Homo sapiens: one gene and its partner. The protein of the gene in region 1 purifies or fractionates together with the protein of each later gene. This does not show direct contact. Each region holds a gene or a part of one and is shown in the gene's direction. Other genes may lie near its edges.

Region 1 (10,381 bases):
GGATGGGCTGTGAAGGAGCCGGAAGAGCCCTCCAGGCAAAGCAGATGGAACCGAAGAGGCCCAGGCGTAGGCACTCAGGTGACTCTCAGTGATCCTGGTTCCAAATTCCACATGACAAACAAGCCAATTACAAATGTGCCTGATGCATCTGTAATATGCTCTATGTAGTTACTATTGTCAATACCTAACCTGGTAGAGCTGCTGTAATAAAGTATCACAAACAGAGCGGCCTAAACAACAAGAGTTTATTGCCTCTCAGTTCAGGAGGCCAAAGTCTGAGACTGAGGCATCAGCAGGCTGGGTCCTTATAGGTCGTACAGGTCCTTCCCAGTCCTTACTTTAGTTGACATCTGCTGCCTTTAATTCATTTCACTCTTCCTCTTTGGAAGCCTTCTTCGCTCTTATTTTTAGGTCACTACTTAGTCTTTCCTGCTAATGTTATAGCTTCCCCCTCCCTGGATCCTGCATTGGCTTCTCTTCCTGTGGTCTGGGGATTTCACGACTGGTTTAGTTGTGTTTTTTTTTTTTTTTTTTTTTTTGAGTTGGAGTCTTACTCTGTCACCCAGGCTAAAATGCAGTGGCGCAATCTTGGCTCACTGCAACCTCTGCCTCCCGGGTTCCAACAATTCTTCTGCCTCAGCCTTCTGAGTAGCAGGGACTACAGGTGTGCACTGCCATGCCTGGCTAATTTTTGTATTTTTAGTAGATACGGGGTTTCACCATGTTTGCCAGGCTGGTCTCGAATTTCTGACCTCAGGTGATCTGCCTGCCTTGGCCTCCCAAAGTGTTGGGATTACAGGCGTGAGCCACACACCCGCCTGGTTTACCTTTTTTGTTGTTGTTGTTACTAAATATTTCTAAACTCCCTGAGAATTCTCATATACCTCTCAATTTCAACAACAGTAGGTCTCAAACCCAGATATCATTCACAAACTTTTTATTAGAAAAGTAACACATGCTTGGTGTAAACATATCATAGTACAGACAAAGTGGAAAGTGAAAGCTCCTTCTCAGCCCTCTTCTGAGAGAGCCATTTACAATAGTCTGATGAACAACCATCCAGACTTTTTTTAATACAATAGATTGTTATATAATCCATTCATCTGTCCATCCATCCATCCATCCATCATCCATCCCTCTATTTTCCATCCGTCAATCCATCCATCCATCCATCCATCCATCCATCCATCCATCCATCAATCCATCCAAGGGAGTATCAGAGCTTTGTGAACATATATTGGTTGCTAATTATGGACAAATGGATTTCCTGTATATGCTGATCTGGGTGGTATTTATATCAGTAATGTGAATGAAGACCTATGTGATTTTCATGTTGCATTTGTAATACATTGTTATGTAGTATTTTAAATGCCTAGTCTGTTAGAGCTACTGTAATAAAGTATCACAAACAGAGCAGCTTAAACAACAGAAATTTATTGTCCCTCAGTTCTGGAGGCCAGAAGTGTGAGATTAAGATGCTAGCAGGCTGGGTCCTTCTGAGGGCTGTGGGGAATCTGTTCATGCTTCTCTTTGGCTTCTGGTGGAATGTCATCTTGCTGACACATTTTGCCATTCCTTGACCTGTAGATGCCTCTGCCACACCATTGCCTTTATCTCTACGTGGTGTCTTCCCTGTGTCTGTGTGTGTCTTTCTCCATGTCCCAAGTTTCCCTGTGAAAGAACACAAGTCATGTTAGATTTGTAACGACCTGATCTTAACTAATTACATTTTCAGTAACCGTATCACCAAATAAGGTCACAATCTGAAGTACTGGGGCCTAGGACTTCCACATATAAAGTCTTAGAGGAAACAATTCAATCCATAACACCCTATCTATTGAAACTAGAACCATAATATAAATATTTTTCTGTGATATCCTTTTTTCATTTATCATGGATAAATTTCCATGCTGATTTGTGTAGATCTATCGATTGGGGCATAATATCCCATAGTGTGCTTTACCATAATTTATTTAATCAAATCATGCATTTTGGGATAACTGTTCTTTTCCACTATTACAAACAACTCTGCAAAAAGCACATTTGTATATATAGTTTTATGCATGTGTATTTGCTTTGAGATAGGTATCTATAAGTGGCATTAATCAGTCGAGACTTTTATGCATTTTATGTGTTAGGTACAGCCATACATGTGGCTGTGTGTTAGGTATAGCCTATGGGTTAGGCATAGCCTGTGTGTTAGGTATAGCCTATGGGTTAGGTATAGCCTACGTGTTAGGTATAGCCTATGTGTTAGGTATAGCCTATGTGTTAGGTATAGCTACATTTTTTTCTCTCGAACTTTGGGTCCTCATCTCTGGCTGCATATTGTGTACTGCCTGTCTCAATACTGCTCAAGGGTCACACATGCTGAGCATTTGCAACATTGGTTTAATTATCATACCCCACCTTCCACCCCCGTTCTCTGACCTGCTCCTGCCCTCTTCCTCCTGCCTCATTGAATAGTGGGGCTTTCCAGGAGGCTGCTGAGTGAGTAAACGGGGGACGGTCCTAAATGCTCTGCTTTCGGTTCCCTCTACCACTCATCACTACACCAGAGGGAACTTTTTAAGATGCAAATTTGAAAATATTGACCCTTTGTTCAAAAATCTTCAAAAGTTCTTCTCTGCAGTCAGAGTGACATCTTAGCTTGGCACACAAGGCTGTCCCTGATACTGCCCTCTCTCCTGCCATACCTTGCACTCCATTTTGAGTCATATTGGATGAGTTTTGTTTTGCTGTTTTAGAGATGGGGACTTGCTATGATGCTCAGGCTGAATTTGAATTCCTGGGTTCATCTACAGCCATACCACCCAGAGTGCCTGATCTCATCTGCACTCCTGGGCTCAAGCAATCCTCCCGTCTCAGCCGCCCAAGTAGCTGGGACTATAGGTGGACATCACTGTGCCCAGCTATGAATTAGTTTTGAAACATCTTGGTGGTTCTTTTAATCTTCCTTATTCTTGCTACTCTTTTCCTTTTGCCTGGAAGGTTACCCCCACTTTCCCACTTTCTACTATCCATCTAAGAAGCTCCTACTTATTTTTTAATTACTGTGATCCTCATTTTGTCCATTTAAAAGCAGGGATAAAACTAACATTCCCATCTTGAGGTTGTGATCATTCAATGAGATAACCCTGTTTAAAGTCGTCATCCATGTCAAGCACACAATAAATACTCAAAAAATGTTTGATCTTCTTCTTCAGATTCCTTCCTTCCTTCCTTCCTTCTTCCTCCTCCTCCTTTCTTTCTCTCTTTTTCTTTTTCTCTTTCTTTCTTTCTTTCTCTCTCTCTCTCTTTCTTTCTTTCTCTTTCTCCCTTCCCTTCCCCTCCCCCCCCCCTTTCCCTTTCCCCTTTCCTTTCCTTATTTTCCTTTCTTTTCTTTTCTTTTTTTAAGACAGGGTTTTGCTCTGTGGCTCAGACTGGAGTGCAGTGGTAGGATCATAGCTCACTGTAGCCTTGAACTCTCCTGGGCTCAAGCAATCTTCCTGCCTCAGCCTTCTGACTAGCTAGGACTACAGGTGTGTACTACCATGCCTGGGTAATGTTTAAAATGTTTAAAATTTTTTATGTAGAGACAGGGTCTTGCTATGTTGCCCAGGCTGGTCTCAAACTCCTGGCCTCAAGTGGTCCTCCCACCTTGGCCTCCCAAAGCACTGGGATTCAGTTTTCATTATGAGACAGTTTTGTGACATAGGCAGGTAGTTAATAAATAAAAATCCCCAACCAATTAACTTAATACAGTACATGGCAAGATATCCGTGCTTGGTAAATGTAGAGCTCAGTTAGGTGGATTGGTTGAAATCGAGATGTCAATCACATTCCTCTAATCCAAGGATTGGTTGGTGGGACATGGTTGTTTGATTCTTTAAACATTTTATTATGTGTTCAGTGTAACCGTTGCTTAATAGTTACCAGCATTTTCACAATTTGGATATGACGTTTTCTTAACAAAACTGCACCGTCTGTTGCAATTTCTACTACTACTGTGTAGTGCTCCCCAAACATCTGTTGAATAATCCATTCTACTCCTTTTTGGAAATAGTGGTAAAGCCTGCATAACTTTAATTACATAATTTAAAAAATATTTTCTCTTTTCCTCTTTGAAGACCATCCCCATTCTACTAGAATGTCCCTGGCCTTTGCCAGGAATGCTACTAATCCCTTCTGCATGTTAATTAACAACAACCCTCTGATAGAATTCTTACCGGGGATGAGAGCTTAGTAGAAGCCACTCAAAACTTGCTTTGTTTTTGTCTGTCTCTCTTGGGCTTCATTTGCCTATTAGTCTTACTTACTGTGTCTTTTCAGTTTGACTCTTCCTTAATTGGGAAGATAGAAACCAGTGGATGGATAATCACTTTTTCCTGCTGGTCATCTGTTCATGCTTTACTGTCTGAATACACTTTTTCTGTATTTCTATTTTTCCTGCCTCGTAGACACCAAAGAGCTTAAAAAACATGCCATTGCCAAGGACTCTGGCAGGAAGGAGGCAATCACCTGCGCTATTCCTGGCTTCATGGAATAGAAGCATCTGTGCTCCTAGGAATTACGCCACCAGTGATTTTAGAGCTCTTATGCTCTTCCTGGGTGATAGAATGGGCTTAATTTGACTCAAGAATAGTACATCAAAACTCTTAATTCCATCGAGATTGATGCATTTTTGGGGTTTTATGCTCTAAAAGGCCTTTTGCTGTGCAGAAGGAAGAGAGAGGTGGACAGAAAGGGCAGTGGGGAGAAGATGAGACTAAAAGGTGGAAAGTCCAGGTCTGGATCCCTCCCCACCACACACCTGCTCTGTGGCCTTGAGAGAAACATGTAATTTTTATAAGCCTTAGATTTCTAATATGTAAAATGTATGTAATAGTTTTAGCTGCACTCCTTCCTTGCCAGGTTGATATAATAATCAAATAAGACTGGTCTCTGGGTCAGGCACAGTGGCTCATGCCTGTAATCCCAGCACTTTGGGAGGCCAAGGTGGGTGGATTGTCTGAGCCCAGGAGTTTAAGACTGCAGTGAGCTGTGCACTTGGCCTGGGTGACTGAGCAAGAGCCTGGCTTTTTCTATTTATTTATTTATTTTTGAGACAGAGTCTCACTTTGTTGCCCAGGTTGAAGTGCAGTGGCAATCTCGGCTCACTGCAACCTCTGCCTCCCAGGTTCAAGCAATTCTCCTGCCTCAGCCTCCCAAGTAGCTGGGATTACAGGTGCCCACCACCACCCTAACTAATTTTTATATTTTTAGTAGAGATGGGCTTTCACCATGTTGGCCAGGCTGGTTTTGAACTCCTGACCTCGTGATCCACCCTCCCAAAGTGCTGGACCTCCCAAAGTGCTGGGATTACAGGCATAAGCCACTGCACCTGGCCTTATTTATTTATTTATTTAGGCAGGGTCTCACTCTGTCACCCAGGCTAGAGTGTGGCAGCGCAATCATGGCTCACTGCAGCCTCGACTTCCTGGACTCAAGCGATCCTCCCACCTCTCCAACGTGGTTGAGGGCTGCAGCGAGAAAGATGTGAAAGGGGCATTTGGGGGCGCAGGAAGGCGGGAGGTGGCAATTGCTAAGGGCCCCGCCGTGTTCCTGTCACAGCCCTAGCTACAGCTTAGAAGGTCACAATGGACGTTCACCTGTTGTCTTTGATGTTTAAATCAGCACCGACTTCCCATGAGGAGGATTTTTTTTTCCTGTCTCTCTTAAAAAAAAAAAAAAAGGCCCCTGCAGTGTGGGTGTCTGCAGTGTTACGGGGATTATTAGTTGAGGATAACCACTGGGATGTGTTTCTGGAAGAAGTGGTGCTGAGGAGCACTCCTGGCCGGAGGAAAGCTGTGTGAGGAGGAGGAGGAGTATGGGGTAACTGGCTCAGTTTGCCTTGGCTCTTTCTGTCGGACTCATACAGCAAAGCATCTGCTGAGACATCATTTGTGTCTCCTGTGACAGCCAGAGACAGCAGGTCTTGCTCTCCCCAGATCATATCTGAGATGCTGGCTCCTGCTCTCTGAGCTGAAGGCTGCAGCTGCTGAGAGAGGACGAGGCACTGAGTCAAAGCAGCTGCACAATGTTGGGGAACAGCTGGGTACTGAGGACTCTTCTCCCTGTCCTTCTACAGGTTGGTGAATTCTGGCCTTACGTCAGTCTGTTGTTCAGCTTTGTCCTCGGTACTCAGCACTAATCAGAATCTCACGCACCTTTACCTGCGAGGCAACACTCTCGGAGACAAGGGGATCAAACTACTCTGTGAGGGACTCTTGCACCCCGACTGCAAGCTTCAGGTGTTGGAGTAAGTCCTTTGGTTTATTACAGCAATGAGAACACATGGTGGCCAAGGGTGGAGGGACGTTTAGGCAGAGTGGCCACAAGATAATCTGTATCTTAGAAGTGAGGTGTCTTCTTAGTGTTTGCCTTGTTACAGGATCATGGGACTGGGAGGAGTCCTTCCAGATGATATAGATGTAGGAACTTGAGTCCTTACCATCACAGTTTTCTGTACCACAAAACAAGGAGGGCAGTATGACACTTACATTTTATGGAAATGTAGGGAAAGGCACAGAATTTGGTAAATCAATGAACAAACCACTGTTACTAATTTGATCTGTGCAATGCAGTGGATTTGAAAAAGAGAGAGAAGAATAATTACCAGCATACAAGGCTGCTTGAAGCTAGTTAGTCCTGTGCTCCTGTGCTTTTTTTTTTTCCACCTGAAACAAGACAGGCTAAGATGCTAAAATCTTGGGGAGCTAGGGGGATGGTTAAGGGGACATTTTCTTTAAATCACCCCCTTTTTGCAGATTAGACAACTGCAACCTCACGTCACACTGCTGCTGGGATCTTTCCACACTTCTGACCTCCAGCCAGAGCCTGCGAAAGCTGAGCCTGGGCAACAATGACCTGGGCGACCTGGGGGTCATGATGTTCTGTGAAGTGCTGAAACAGCAGAGCTGCCTCCTGCAGAACCTGGGGTGAGTGTGCTCTGCAGAGATGCCCGTGGTGGGACTCTGAGTTCTCAGGAAACGTTGACTGTTATCAAAATCCAGGATGGCTCTCGCTTCATTTGCAGCCACTCAAGATTAGGTTGGGCCTGGGTCAGTTGTGGTGGATATTTTAAAATAGAGAATATGGGGTTAAACTACACATTCCACTTCACTGAGATGGTTAGAATCACCAAGGCTAAGCTGGATTTCACCCACATTCCCCAAAGAAACACAAGCCCTCATGCGATCATGGCCAAGGAGGATTCTGTTCTACACAAGGAACCGAACTTCGTAGAACTCGTCTATGGGTCATCCAAATTGGAAGGGTCTTTACATAGTGGGGATCTTGTTGTTTTGTTTCTGAGGATTTATTTTTTTTTTCCTTGAGACAGAGTCTTGCTCTGTCGCCCAGGCTGGAGTGCAGTGGCATGATCTCGGCTCACTGCAAGCTCCGCCTCCCGGGTTCACGCCATTCTCCTGCCTCGGCCTCCCAAGTAGCTGGGACCACAGGCGCCTGCCACCACACCCGGCTAATTTTTTGTATTTTTAGTAGAGTTGGGGTTTCACTGTGTTAGCCAGGATGGTCTCCATCTCCTGACCTCGTGATCTGCCTGCCTCGGCCTCCCCAAGTGCTGGGATTACAGGTGTGAGCCTCCGTGCCTGGCGGTTTCTGAGGATTTCTAAATGGGAAAAGAGTGCTCCAGGAATAGCAAGATGGGAAATTACACGAAATTCGACAGTGTGTCAGGATATTGCCAGCCCACCTCTGTGATACTACTGAGGTAGTCGTCTCCTCTCTAGCAAGAGCTTCCTGGCGAGTCCCACGGTTCTGTCAGCCGTGATGATTGCACTTTTCCCTGAAGACGTTTTCACTGCTTGGCTTTAAGGCCAACATGCTCTCCTGGGTTTTCTCCTATTTCATCAGATCCTTCTACTCAGTCTCCTTTCTGGCCTCTTCTTCATCATCCTGACCCTTATGTGTTGAATCCTCAGAGCTTAGTCGCTGGGCTAATTTTTCTTCCCTACACTTTCTCCCTCATTTAAATTATCTGGTCTTCTGGCTTCATGATATGTGTGCTGTGGCCTCCAGATTATATGTCCATAAATTCTGTGTCTCCGTGCTTGGCTGATCTTTCTTCTTGAAGGTTTAATAAACCTCTCAAACGTCACATCTAGATCCACACCCTTGCTACTCTCTTCTACCCGAAACCTGATTCTTCCCCATTTCAGTCGATGGTCACTTCCTCCAAGTTGCTCGGGCCAAAACATTTCTGGTTCTGTCGTCACTGTCTCTTTTTCCTTATAATCATGTCCAATGTGTCAGCACATCCTGTGAGCTCTGCCTTCCCAGCTTGGCCACTCCCTGACCACTTCAGGCCAGCTTCACGGCTTCTTCCTTGGCTCAAGCCACCATCACCTGGTGTCTGGATTGTCATGGTGGCATTCTGACAGGTCACCCTGCATCTGTTATTCTGATTTTAGCAGACAAGGGATTCAGCTAAAACGTAACTCGCATCATATCACTCTTGTCAACATCGTCTTCTTATCACTTTCATAATCAGAGCAACAAACTCATGGTGGCTTCCATGCCCCACATAATCCAGCCTCTCCTGCTTCCGAAGATTCCGCTTCTCCCAACCCTTGCTTATTCTGCCCCAGTACAGTGATCTCCTTGCTGTTTTGCAAGAACACTGTCATCTCTGGATTTTTGCACTTGCTTTTCTTCTGGCCTAGAACTCTCTCCCCTTCAGTATCCACCTGCATTATTCCCTGTACCTTCCTAAATTCTCTGCTTAAAGGTCTTCTCTGCGAGGCTGTCTTTGACTATTCTACTGAAAATAGAAGCACTTTTTCTTCTCTTCTCATTCTCCTCTGCAGTGTAGCACATCTTATGTGCTATGTCATTTTCTTGTTTATTTATTATCTATCTCTGCTCCCAAAATATAAATTCCATTAGTCCAGGGACTTCTGTCCATATTAATGATCTCAAGGCTGAGAACTTGTTGGAATGCAGGTTTGAATAAATACAAGTTTGAATCAGCCTTGCATCCTTGTGCCAACATAATGGAGCACATTTGCTGCAGGACAAGCCAATATTCCCAGAGCTAAGAGAGATGGGGGAACAAACAAAGGATTGGTCAGGTCAAAGCTGGGGACACTGCTACATGTAGCATCACTGACCTAGCCCTGAGGGACATTCTGGACCCAGGCTGAGGGACAGGCTCAAAATAGATTGAAGAATCCATGAATGCAATCAACCCGTTTTCTCAGGCTGCGATAACAAGCTGCTTTAGACTGTGTGACTCAAACACAGATTTATTATCTCACAATACTGGAGGCTAGAAAGTCCAAAATCAAGTCTCTGATGAATTTGGTTGCTGGCGAGAGTCCTCTTCCTGATTTGCAGATGGCTACCTTCTTGTTATGTGATTGCATGGAGGGAGGGGAGGCAAGGGAGAGAAGACAGGGGAGAAAGAACAAACTCTCTGATATCTCTCCTGTAAGGGCACTCACCCCATACTGAGGGCCCCACCCTCACAACTTCATCTAACTCTAACTACTTCCCAAGGGCCTCACCTTTAAGTACCGTACATTAGGGGTTCGGGCTTCATCATGGGAATTGTTAAGGAAGACAAACATTCAGTATATAACACCACCAAATTGAGATGGTTATAAATGGTGCAGGACAAATGGGTGGATTTATTAGTTAAGTTGCAAGGGAAACTTTATTAAAGAGGAGGAAGAACTTACATCGAAGATGTGAGAGGCATCCTGGGCAAATGCAATGTGTAGAATTGATCAGGTTAGTGACTAAATGAACATAAGGTAAAAAAATTTACAAGACAGTTGAGGAAGCGTAAATGCTGACTGGACATACAGTGATACTAAGAAATTATTGTTAAACGATTTTGGTGTGATAGTGACATTGTAATTATATTTTAGTGTCACAAAGTGAATTATTGATAGATGCATTAAATGCAGTATTTAAAATAATCCATGGGTGGGAGGAGTGGGTGGGCAATAGAAGAAACAAGTTGACATGACCTGTTTAATTGTCGAACTTGGGTAATGGACACAGGGGGTTCATTATACTATTTTCTATACTTTTATGTATGCTTAACATTTTCCCAACTAGATAGTTAAAAATATAACAGGAACCACATTGGGCACTTAGAGCTTTTTTTTTTTTTTCCCCACATTTTTATTGGGAGCCGTGGGAGGGGCCTCCTCTGTCATTGGAGGTGCTCACAGTTTCTTCAGCCACTCCAGGCTGGGGTCCTGGGGGTCTGAGGCTCCCAGTGACGAAGGACACGACGAGCACCGGCTCCTTGGCCCAGGCATTCTTGAAGAAGGTGCGGAGTCTCGCGGCCATCTTGGTCTCGGCGGCGGCGACGGCGGCGAGGACGCGG
Region 2 (11,325 bases), on another chromosome or scaffold:
TATTTTTGTTTGTTTGTTATTTTAGAGATGAGGTCTCACTGTGTTACCCAGGCTGGTCTTGAACTGACTTCAAGCAATCCTCAGTGCCTCAGCCTCACAAAGTGCTGGGATTACCAGTGCTAGCCACTGCATCTGGTCACAAATGTTTTTTGAAAAATGTAAACTAGAATGAGATTTTTTAAAATATTGAAAGTGATTCAGGGGAAGATAGTAAAAGCACATTAAAGGTTTCGTTTCTATTTGGGAAAAATTATGGTTATTTTTGACATTGAAAGGTAATTCTAAATACGGGTAACCCTTGCTATCTTCACTTTCACTATGTGAGCTCAGGAACTACATAGATTAACGTACATTTTCACACAGACTCGTGGCATCCAGAGTTTAGAAACCAAATAGGTTGGGATAAAACAGTATTCTTTGCTATTCAAACCTTAGACCCAAATAGATTAAGGTAACAGGTTACTTTTATTTTTTTTTTAATATTTAAAGGAAATAAATAGAATATAGAAACAATACACTTCTTGGCCATTAGAAGGAAATAAAAAAGTTGGAGGGGAAGGAGAGGATTTTTACAAAGTAATCCACTAGGGCCAGGAGTGGTGGCTTACGCCTATAATCCCAGCTACTTGGGAGGCTGAGGCAGTAGGATAATTTGAGCCTGGGAGTTCAGGATGTGCCTAACAACATGGCAAGATGCTGTCTCAAAAACACACACACACTAACAGGAAGACCAGGCCCCAGGTCCCTTTCATCCTCATTCATTCATAATTTAGTCTAAAATCCATTAGGTTTCAGACCAATCATAGGTGTTCATGTTGGGAGGCAACAGTGACCTGGTGGGGGGTGTCAGCAAAGCAGGGTGAGGATAGTGCTTGTGTGTTGTGTAAAGAGGGGAGTGGGGTTGATGTCAGCAGCGACAGGAGATTAGTTATATGCAGAGGGGTTGATCAAATAAGGAAATACATTGAGGACAATGGGAAGTGCCTCTCTGTTGGAGATGGGGTTGTAAATATGTAAAAGGGAGGAAACTAGAATAAATCCTGAAATGTAGGTTTGGAATTGGAATTACTGGCATGAATTCATGGTTCCCAAAATATCAAGATGTATTCAGTATGGTAGTAATACTGAAAAAAAAATGTAGAGAGATATACCTATGGATGTGGATGTATGTATGCATAGAGGACCTGGAAGCAGCAACGCTGTAATAACATGAGTATACCCAGCTCCCAGATCTTGGTTTCTAAATACCATTCTTCACTAAAAGGAACCAGGGCTCGGAGAAACACCTGACTTCAGGATTGGGGCAGGAATGGTACTCTAGAAGATCTTGCTGTGCCAAACAAAGGAAGTGCTCAAAGAACAATAAGGACATGTCAAATGGATACAGAAGACATCTTGAAGGGCTTCCTGCAGGCTAATCTTGAGACCATTTGAACATCTAAAATAAATCATGGCCAGGTGCGGTGGCTCACACCTATAATCCCAGCACTTTAAGAGGGCAAAGTGGTTGAGCTTGAGACCAAGAGCTCAAGACCAGCCGGGGCAACATAGTGAAACCCCCGTCTCTACAACAAAATTTAAAAATAGCTGGGCTTCGTGGCATGTGATGTAGTCCCAACTACTCAGGAGGCTGAGGCAGAAGGATTGCTTGATCCCAAGAAATTGAGGCTGCAGTGAGCCGAGATCATGCCATTGCACTCCAGTGAGCAACAAAGCGAGACCCTGTCTCAAAAAACACACACACAAAAAAACATGAAAATATCAGATGCGCACCCATAAAGGATGAGTTCATGTCCTTTGCAGGGACATGGATGAAGCTGGAAACCATCATTCTCAGCAAACAGAAGAACAGAAAACCAAATACCACATGTTCTCACTCATAAGCAGGAGTTGAACAATGAGAACACATGGACACAGGGAGGAGAACATCACACACCGGGGCCTGTCAGGGAGTGGGGAGCTAGAGGAAGGATAGCATGGGTGCAGCAAACCACCATGGCACACATATACCTATGTAACCTGCACGTTCTGCACATGTATCCCAGAACTTAAAGTATAATTTAAAAATAAATAAATAAAATATCAGATGTAATCCATTGAACAAAACGGGAATTTGTGAGTCCATGCTGATTAAAATAAAAGAATAAATGGAGACAGCCAGGTGCGGTGGCTCACGCCTGTAATCCCAACACTTTGGGAGGCCAAGGTGGATTGCTTCGAGCTCAGGAGTTCAAGACCAGCGTGGGCAACGTGGCAAAACCCTGTCTCTACAAAAATTACAAAAATTATCCAGGCATTGGTGGCGTGCACCTGTAGTCCCAGCTACACAGGAGGCTGAAGCTGGAGAATCGCTTAAGCCTGGGAAGTGGAGGTTGCAGGAAGCTGAGATTGTGCCACTGCACTCCAACCTGGGGGACAGTGAGACCCTGTCACAAAAAAAAAAAAAAGAAATGGAGAAACTTCTCTTTATAGTCGAGTACCAACAGATGAATGTAGTCAGAATAATGATATTAGAAAATCACCACTTGGCAATCACCATAGCAAAAATCCAGCCAAGAAACATCAATTACTAAAACTAATGTATGAAAGTTTGATGAGGAACAGACCATTTACACAGTCTCAAAGTCCTCCCTGCAAAATGCTTCCTGATGATTACAAAAGGAAAAACTACATTGGAGAAACCTGGGAGACCCTACCTCATTCAAGTTATCACAGTTAATCACAGTTCACATAACCAGTGCTGGGACAAATCAAAATTGTATAACATTTAATACAATGCAATAAGAATATAGCTTCACTTCTGTGATATTCTTCATAAAAATGCATAATGTGAATCTAATGAGGAAACATCAGAGAACATAGTTCCCCTAATGTTCTTTTATGGCAATTTTTTTTTTCTGATCTGGGATTCAGTCCGGATAGATGTAGCTCCTGAATAGAAATTAAGGGATATTCTTCACAATAATTGGTCAGTAATCTTCAAAAGTCAAGTTCATGAAAATCAAGGAAATACATAGAACCGTTTCAGGTTGAAGGAGCCTAAAAGGGACATGAAAACTAAATGCAATGTGAGATCCCAGCTAAACTATATCTGGTTTTCCTTTTTGAGTTTTGTTTTGTTTTGTTTTGAGACAGTCTTGTTCTATTGCCCAGGCTAGAGGGCAGTGGCATGATCTTGACTCACTGCAATTTCCGCCTCCCAGGTTCAAGGGATTCTCGTGCCTCAGATTCCAGAGTAGCTAGGATTACAGGCCCGTGCCACCATGCCCAGCTATTCTTTTTGTATTTTTAGTAGAGACAGGGTTTCGCCATGTTGGCCAGGCTGGTCTCTAACTCCTGGCCTCAAGTGATCTACCCGCCTCAGCCTCCCAAAACGCTGGGATTGCAAGTGTAAGCCACCACTCCTGGCTTTTGGGGTTCTTTTTGAGACAGGGTCTCTGTCACCCAGGCTGGAGTGCAATGGCACAATCACAGCTCACTGCAAGCATGACGTCCTGGGCTCAAGTGATCCTTCCACCTTGGCTTCCTGAGTAGCTGGAACTACAGTCATACACCACCATGCCCGGCTAATTATTATTATTATTTTTTTTGGTAGACGGAGGGTGGAGAGTGGGGTGGGGGGGAATGGGGGTGGGGGTGGGGGATATTCTCACTGTGTTGCCCAAACTGGTCTTGAATTCCTGGACTCAAGCGATTCTCCTACCTCGGCCTCCCCAAGTGCTGGGATTACAGGCATGAGCCACCACACCCAGCCCCATGTCTGGTTTTAAACTAAGCTTAGTAGTTTGTTATAGAGCACAGAATATTAACACATAGATAATCTAACTCATGAACATAGATACAAAACCCTTGAACAAAAAGATTAACAACTAGAACCCAACAATTCACGAAAATAATAACTACAGCTCAAACAAAATATACCTGAGGAATAGAAGATTAATATGTGACCATCATTGATAATGAACAACAATAACAGAATAAGAAAGAAAATCTCATGATTACCTCAATAAATACAGAGAAATCTGGTCATACTCACTATCCATTCATGATTACAACTCTTCAATACTATGTCTGCAAACATCATACTTAATGGTGAATTATCCAAAGCTTTCTCTCTGAGTTAAGCAATTAGCTATCTCCACTTCTATTCACTATTTTACTATGTTCACAATTTTTCACTATTTTCACTATTTTACTGGCAGTCCTCACTAGTAAAGAAGAAGTAAGACTCAGAAAAAAATTAAACTGATTTTGTTGCAGACAACTTGAATGTGTTTATAAAAAATCCAAAGAACCTATGTAAAAATTAGACTTAAGTAAGTCAAGTTAGGCCATACTCAGGGGCTCACATCTGTAATCCTAGCACTTTGGGAGGGTGAGGTGGGAGGATTGCTTGAGCCCATGAGTTCGAGACCAGCCTGGGCAACATAGCGAGACCCTGTCTCTATTTAAATAAAAATTAAAAAATTAAAGAGTAAGTCAGGTTAGAAAGGTTCCTGGATAGACAACCAACATATGACAAATAATTGTATTTTTACCTACCAGCATCAAACACAAAATGAAACTTTTAAAAGACCCTATTGATTAGGAGAAAATGAAGGACTTGGGAGAGCCTCACTGACAAATAGAGCAAGTTTACAGGATTTAAGTCCTGCAGAACCACCACTGAGGTGACTTGGAGAGATACCTCTGTAAATACATCGCAAATATCAAATACCTGCAAGAGAGGACAGCTCTACTTGCCAGGATTCCTTATCCAGGTGTCAAAGAATGAATATTCTAAATATCTTCGTGTAGCCTGAGCATATATGTGGGTTTTTTTTAACCATTTAGACATAAGTTGGGGTGCATACTATGGATTCCTCAACACCTTGCTTTTTTTGACTTACCAGTCATATATCTGGAGAGAAATCCATTTTAGCAAAAAATATGTGTAATATATTCTTTCTTTTTAATTTTTTTTTTCTTTTTTTGAGACCGAGTCTTCGCTTTGTTGCCCAGGCTGGAGTGCAGTGGCGCGATCTCGGCTCACGGCAAGCTCCGCCTCCCGGGTTCACGTCATTCTTCTGCCTCAGTTTCCCGAGTAGCTGGGACTACAGGCGCCCGCCACCACGCCCAGTTAATTGTATTTTTAGTAGAGATGGGGTTTCACCGTGTTAGCCAGGATGGTCTCTGTCTCCTGACCTCGTGATCCTCCCGCCTCAGCCTCCCAAAGTGCTGGGATTACAGGCGTGAGCCGATGCGCCCGGCCTCTTTTTAATTTTTTAAACTTGCAGAAGAGTTGCAAGAATAGTGCTCTTTAGTGGGCCTTCACTCGGAATCACCAACTGCTGGCGTGTGGGTGCACTGGCTTTATAGTATGTGCTTTATCAGTCCCCTTCCTTCCTGTCCTCCTGTCCCTGTGTGCTTCCTGAACCGTTTGAAAATAGGTTGCATATATCATGCCCCTGTGCCCCGAAAAACTTCAGTGTGTATTTTCTAAGAACAAGGGCATCCCCTTGCATAAACACAGTACAATCTTATCAAATTCAGAAGATTCAACATTAATAGAAAAAACTATCTGCATATTATCCATATTCAAATTTCATCAATCGTTCCCATAATGTTCTTTTATGGCAATTTTTTTTTTCTGATCCGGTATTCAGTCCGGATAGATCTAGCTCCTGAATAGAAGTGGAAATCCTCGCTCCCCGGGGTGAGGAAATTCCCTCAGGGCTCCTAGGTGTGGTGTAGTCGCTGGGAAGGGGGAATGAGTGCCCAGAGCAGGCAGGGTTGCCGTAGTGTCCACTAACTCAGTGGCGGTAAATTTTTGTGCACATGTTAAGTGTGTGTGTGTGTATGTGTAATATATATATACACAAGAGAAACTGAGTGATGGAAGAAGGAAGAGAGGTTATATGTGTAGTTCATTCTCTGGAGCCTAATCTTTCTAAAACATTTCAGACAACCCAGTAACAGTGTCTCATGGCAACATGATAGAATCTTGAAGGTGAATGGAAAGGATTATGATGTACGGAAAATCCAAGTTGGAGTGGTGCCTGATACAGGTGAAAATCAGTTCGCAGCTACTGGAAGAGAGAGGAGCATATCAATTGTTTAAAACAAAAAGCCAGCGTTAACAGGCTCAGAGAAATGAAGTTGAAAGGAATAGATGTAGCTCCTGAATAGAAGCAAAAGTCCAACGTGGTTCCATTAAAATGACTTCTCAGCCGTCTCTCCCTGCAGATGACTTCGATATCTACCACGTCCTGTGAGCCTTGATCTACTACAGCTTTCTAGATTAGCCCAGTGGTGGGAAAGTCAAGCTCAGAGGAGTCAGGGGACACACACTGCATTCAGGAGGGTTCTCCCAGGTGTGACCCATGGAAGGTCCCCGGAAAGGAAGGAAGATTGTACCTAATATCTTGGCAATAAATACATGTCCTTCCTAAAGGGTGACAGTCTAGGACCTCCTGTGGTATCAGTGAGTAAAAGTGAAAATGACCATGCTTATAACAGTGAACACTTTTCAAACTGGCATAACTGTACTTAAAAGTATGTATGAGGTAAGGTCACTGTCTCATGGAGCCCCAACTTTAGATACAATATATGGAAAGAAAAATCCGAGAGGACATAGATACCAGGCTGCCTGGCACAATACAAAAAATTGTAAGAGGAAGCTCTGTGCAGGGAGAGGAGGTCCCGTTTGGAACCCTCAGTGTTCTCTCTGTGCAGGCAGGTCTGGGCAATTCACATGAACACTCTAATCCTGTAGCTTACTGGGAAGGACATCCTAGATCAATCACTTAAAAAAATTTTTCAGTTGTCATTTAGACGAACCTGTGTCAAGTAGCTTGCATGATACCTGCATAATCCTCACAACCATCCTATCAGGCAGATGATATTATTCCTATTTTATAGATGAGAAACGGACATAGAATCCCAGATCCTATAATTAATAAACGGCATAGTTGGGATTTAAACTAAGATCTATATTTTTACAAAGTCTGTGCTCTTTCTCCTCTCCGTGTATATGTGTGTGTGTGTGTTTATATGTATATAGCTATATACATACACATATACACATATGTGTGCTCTTAAGATATATATATTCATGCTCTTAATGTGCATATATTATGCCTTCAATATATATGCCATACATACATATATATACAAATATATACATATATATCACATATATAGAGACAATCTTAATATATATAGACAATCTTAATATATGTAAATCCAAATATCTTAATGGATAGGTATGTTGGGAGAGAGGGAGGGAGGTAAACAGATAGGTGGATATTCCTTTTTTTACATACCACCACACACCCCATGAGTAAATGACTACATCATTTAAACCTGACATCTCATCTGTAAAATGGGATGTAAAAATAATCGTTCCTGCCTTACACAATTGTTGAAAGATTTAATGGGAAAATGCATGTTAAGTACTTAAATAGTGCCAGGCTCACTACCTGATAGCTATTGTTTTATTAACTATTAATAATAATAATAATAATTTAATTACTTGCCCAGCAAGTTGTCAGTTGTCTTGCTTTAGTTTTAGAAGGAAATTTTTATCTGTCTTATTTGGCTTCAGGTACTTGTTCACAGTTCTGGTCTAAGTTATGTAATTTTGTTTTTAATTTAATTTATTTATGTAATAGAGACAAGATCTCACTATGTTACCCTGGCTGGTCTCAAACTCCTGGCCTCAAGCAATCCTCCCACCTCGGCCTCCCAAAGGGCTGGGATTACAGGTGTGAGCCACTATGCTCTGCCATAATACAATTTTAGACTCCAAGTTCCAATACTTCCTGTCCTTGGTAGGGAATGTGTTTGGAGGAAGTCTTATTAAGAACTCTTCTTTATTTCATAATATTAAGAGAAGCTTATTGTCATTTGTACATATTTTGTTCTCTCAAAACCCTTTCTTCCCATGTGGCACCAACACAGTGCAGAGTGCACAGATTACTATGATACCCTTCCAGTTAAGGAGGCTGATGGGAACCAGCCCCATTTTCAGGGTGTCACTGGCTTGTGGAACTTGGGCAACACATGCTGCGTGAATGCCATCTCACAGTGTCTCTGCAGCATCTTGCCGCTGGTGGAATACTTTCTCACCGGGAAGTATATCACCGCTCTGCAAAAGTAAGACCATTTGCATTCCCTGCAGCCCAGCCCCCACCCCCACTTCCCCACAGATGAGGTTAGAGAAGGAACTCTGGAATCCCTATTAAGAGATAAACAAACAAGTCAGTAGAGGTTGTAGCTTCCCAGATAACACGCTAGAGTAAGTAAAAGTGGGAAGGGCAACCAAGAAATGAATGCAGCTCCTTTTTTTTTTATTTTTTATTTTTTTTTATTGTTGTTGTTGAGCCAGGGTCTCGTTCTGTTGCCCAGGCTGGAGTGCAGTGGTGCGATCTTGGCTCCCTGCAACCTCTGTTCCTCGGGTTCAAGTGACCCTCCTGCCTCAGCCTCCTGAGTAGCTGGGATTACAGGCACGCGCCACCATGCCTGGCTAATTTTTTTTGTATTTTTGTAATTTTTTGTATTTTTAGTAGAGACGGGGTTTCACCATGTTGGCCAGGCTGGTCTTGAGCTCCTGGCCTCAAGTGATCCACCCCTCCCAACCTACCACCTCGGCCCCCCAAAGTGCTGGCATTACAGGTGTGAGCCACTGAGCCTGGCATCCTTTTTTTTCTTTTAGACAGTCTTGTTCTGTCACCCAAGCTGGGGTGAAGTAGTGGTATGATCACAGCTCACTGCAGCCTCGACCTTCTGGGGGCTCAAGCTATCCTCCTGCATTGGCCTCCCAAAGTGCTGGGGTTACAGGCATGAGACACCACGTTCTTCCATTTTGAGACTAATTTCCTAGGCTTGGGTGATTAGGTGCCTTCTTTTCATTAAATCAGCCAGAAACATATCCCTTTCTTCTTCCAAGCGATTGCAGTGAAGTTGCCACTGCTTTTGCCTATCTGATGACAGACATGTGGCTGGGAGACTCAGACTGTGTCTCACCAGAAATATTCTGGTCAGCTCTTGGCAACCTCTACCCAGCATTTACGAAAAAGATGCAACAAGATGCTCAGGAATTCTTGATTTGTGTCCTAAATGAACTTCATGAAGCTCTAAAAAAGGTAAGTAGAGTTAATGACCTTGAAATAGGATAGTCCTGAACCTTTATCAGCAGCTTCCATTTTTCATTCTTTTACTTGTTCAATTAATATTGTCTACTTTGTGCCAAGCACTGTGCTAGGTGTCCCATGGAGAACATCCAAGTTAGTATTTGAATGTGTAGCTGTATTTACCAAACTTACTTGTCATCAGAATCATCTGGGAAGATTTTACAACACAGATTTTAAGGCAAATACTCCAAGGGTAATTAATTAGAATGTCTTTTGGGAAAGCTTACTTGGCATTTCCAGTGGTCAGCTAGGCTTTGGAAACACTAATCTACTTTTCTTTGTAAATAGAGGCTGAATGGACTAGTTTTTAAAAGTGCAAAATATATTCCTCATGAGAAATAACATATAGAACTTTATAGCTTAAATTTTCTTGGGACCTACAAATCCATGAAAATATTAAGCTTGATATTAGATTAAGCAACAGATCTACGCACTACAAAGTTTCATCCTCATACCAAACATACCTAACCTGAGTTCATCACCGAATTAGGACATACATTTCATTAAACATGAAATCATCAGTTACTCTAGAGGTTTTGCCTTTATTTACAAAACTCACTGCCCTTAGCCTTGGTCTGAGACCCACATTCTCTGAAAATGTGTCCTTGACTTTATGCAACATCCTTCTGCTAACATTACCTCACTGCACCTCTAATACCCAGGGAATGGTTAGCATAAAGGTTGCAAACTATAGCTATTAATTGTTCTCATTGGCAGATCTCAGTTCCATTTTTCATTTAGAGTAATAAAAAAGTACTCATGGCCAGGCGCTGTGGTTCGCGTCTGTAATCCTAGCACTTTAGGAGGCTGAGGTGGGTGGATCACTTGAGGTCAGGAGTTCAAGACCATCCTGGCTAACACGGTGAAACCCCGTCTCTACTAAAAATACAAAAATCAGCCAGGCGTGGTGGCAGGAGCCTGCAGTCCCAGCTACTCGGGTGGCTGAGGCACAAGAATCGCTTAAACTCAGGAGGCGGAGGTTGCAGTGAGCCGAGATCATGCCACTGCACTCCAGCCTGGACGACAGAGCAAGACTCCGTCTCCAAGAAAAAAAAAAAAAAAAAAAAATGAAAAGGAAAAAAAAAAACAAAAACATATTCATGGCAGCACTTTTTTAAGAAAAGAGGTGAGTGGGCAGTAAAAATCACTTATGTCCTCTTCTACAGCCAATCTGAAACAAACAGCATTCTGTTTCCCAAGATCAAAGTAGGAATTAGGGGAATTAAGTTACTGTCAGGGTGGAAGACTTTGGCAGCAGAGTGTGATGAAAGGAGCAAGCAAAAATGGAATGCTGAGCACAGCCCCAAATTAGAGCCAGCTGTGGAGCTAACACATCTTCAAAATGTATATTCCACTGAGGCTCTTAAATCACTGAAAATTCAGGGTGTGCCCCAGAAATGCTGTTGCTGAGTATGAGCTGGATCCAAACCAGGCCACAAGGCTAGTTCCACCAGGCTGCCTTAGAAATTTAAGATTTGCTCTCTTATCTTTTTTTTTTTTTTTTAATTAACCTTGTAGAGACAGGATTTTGTTATGTTTCCCAATCTGATCTCAAACTCCTCCCGCCTCAGCCTCCCAAAGCACGACGATTACAGATGTTAGCCACCATGCCTGGCCAAGATTTGCTCTTTTAAAAAAGTGTTTTCTAGAAGTTAAAGGAGTAAAGGCTGCAGAATGTAACCTGAAGGGACTGGAGACAGGAAAGATTGGATTTCTTAATATTTTACCTTTAGATCTGCTTGAGTGAACTAATGCTAATTTAGCTTACTTACCCCCTTCCAGAAAAAACTAGCTCCCAAGGCTGGTAGCTTATGGGGCCATGGGTATATGTTTTACCAGAGTTAGACTGTCATCATTCCTCTGTTTCATCTAACGGGAAAATATCTGAATTATCAGAAATCACACATGATATATATACTTTCAAGGATATCTTACTCTATTGTCTGAATCCAAAACTAAGTGGTTTCTGGTAGCAATGTCTCATTCTGATAGAAAAAAAAATCAGTCATTTTATTGAAAACTTTTCCTTTTTTTTTGGAAACATGGTCTCACTCTGTCACCCAGGCTGGAGTGCAGTAGTGCTAACACGGCTCACTGCAGTCTCAAACTCCTAGGCTCAACTGATCCTCCAACCTCAACCTCCCAAGTAGCT

What was found.
Region 2: the proteins of NLRP3 (region 1) and USP50 purify together in Homo sapiens (affinity purification with western blotting; 3 studies listed by BioGRID). This does not show direct contact.

What each region holds. Positions count from the first base shown.
Region 1 is NC_000001.11:247,437,863-247,448,243, forward strand, and holds part of NLRP3 (NACHT, LRR and PYD domains-containing protein 3), read left to right. Parts: intron 1-1,418; exon of another isoform or gene 1,419-1,671; intron 1,672-6,109; coding exon 6,110-6,280; intron 6,281-6,788; coding exon 6,789-6,959; intron 6,960-10,221; exon of another isoform or gene 10,222-10,365; intron 10,366-10,381. UniProt on the Homo sapiens protein: Sensor component of the NLRP3 inflammasome, which mediates inflammasome activation in response to defects in membrane integrity, leading to secretion of inflammatory cytokines IL1B and IL18 and pyroptosis.
Region 2 is NC_000015.10:50,541,398-50,552,722, reverse strand, and holds the start of USP50 (ubiquitin carboxyl-terminal hydrolase 50), read left to right. Parts: upstream 1-6,056; 5' UTR 6,057-6,197; coding exon 6,198-6,250; intron 6,251-7,708; exon of another isoform or gene 7,709-7,924; coding exon of another isoform or gene 7,925-7,941; coding exon 7,942-8,136; intron 8,137-8,929; coding exon 8,930-9,125; intron 9,126-11,325. UniProt on the Homo sapiens protein: Deubiquitinating enzyme that removes conjugated ubiquitin from specific proteins to regulate different cellular processes. Regulates the inflammasome signaling pathway by deubiquitinating 'Lys-63'-linked polyubiquitination of the PYCARD/ASC adapter protein.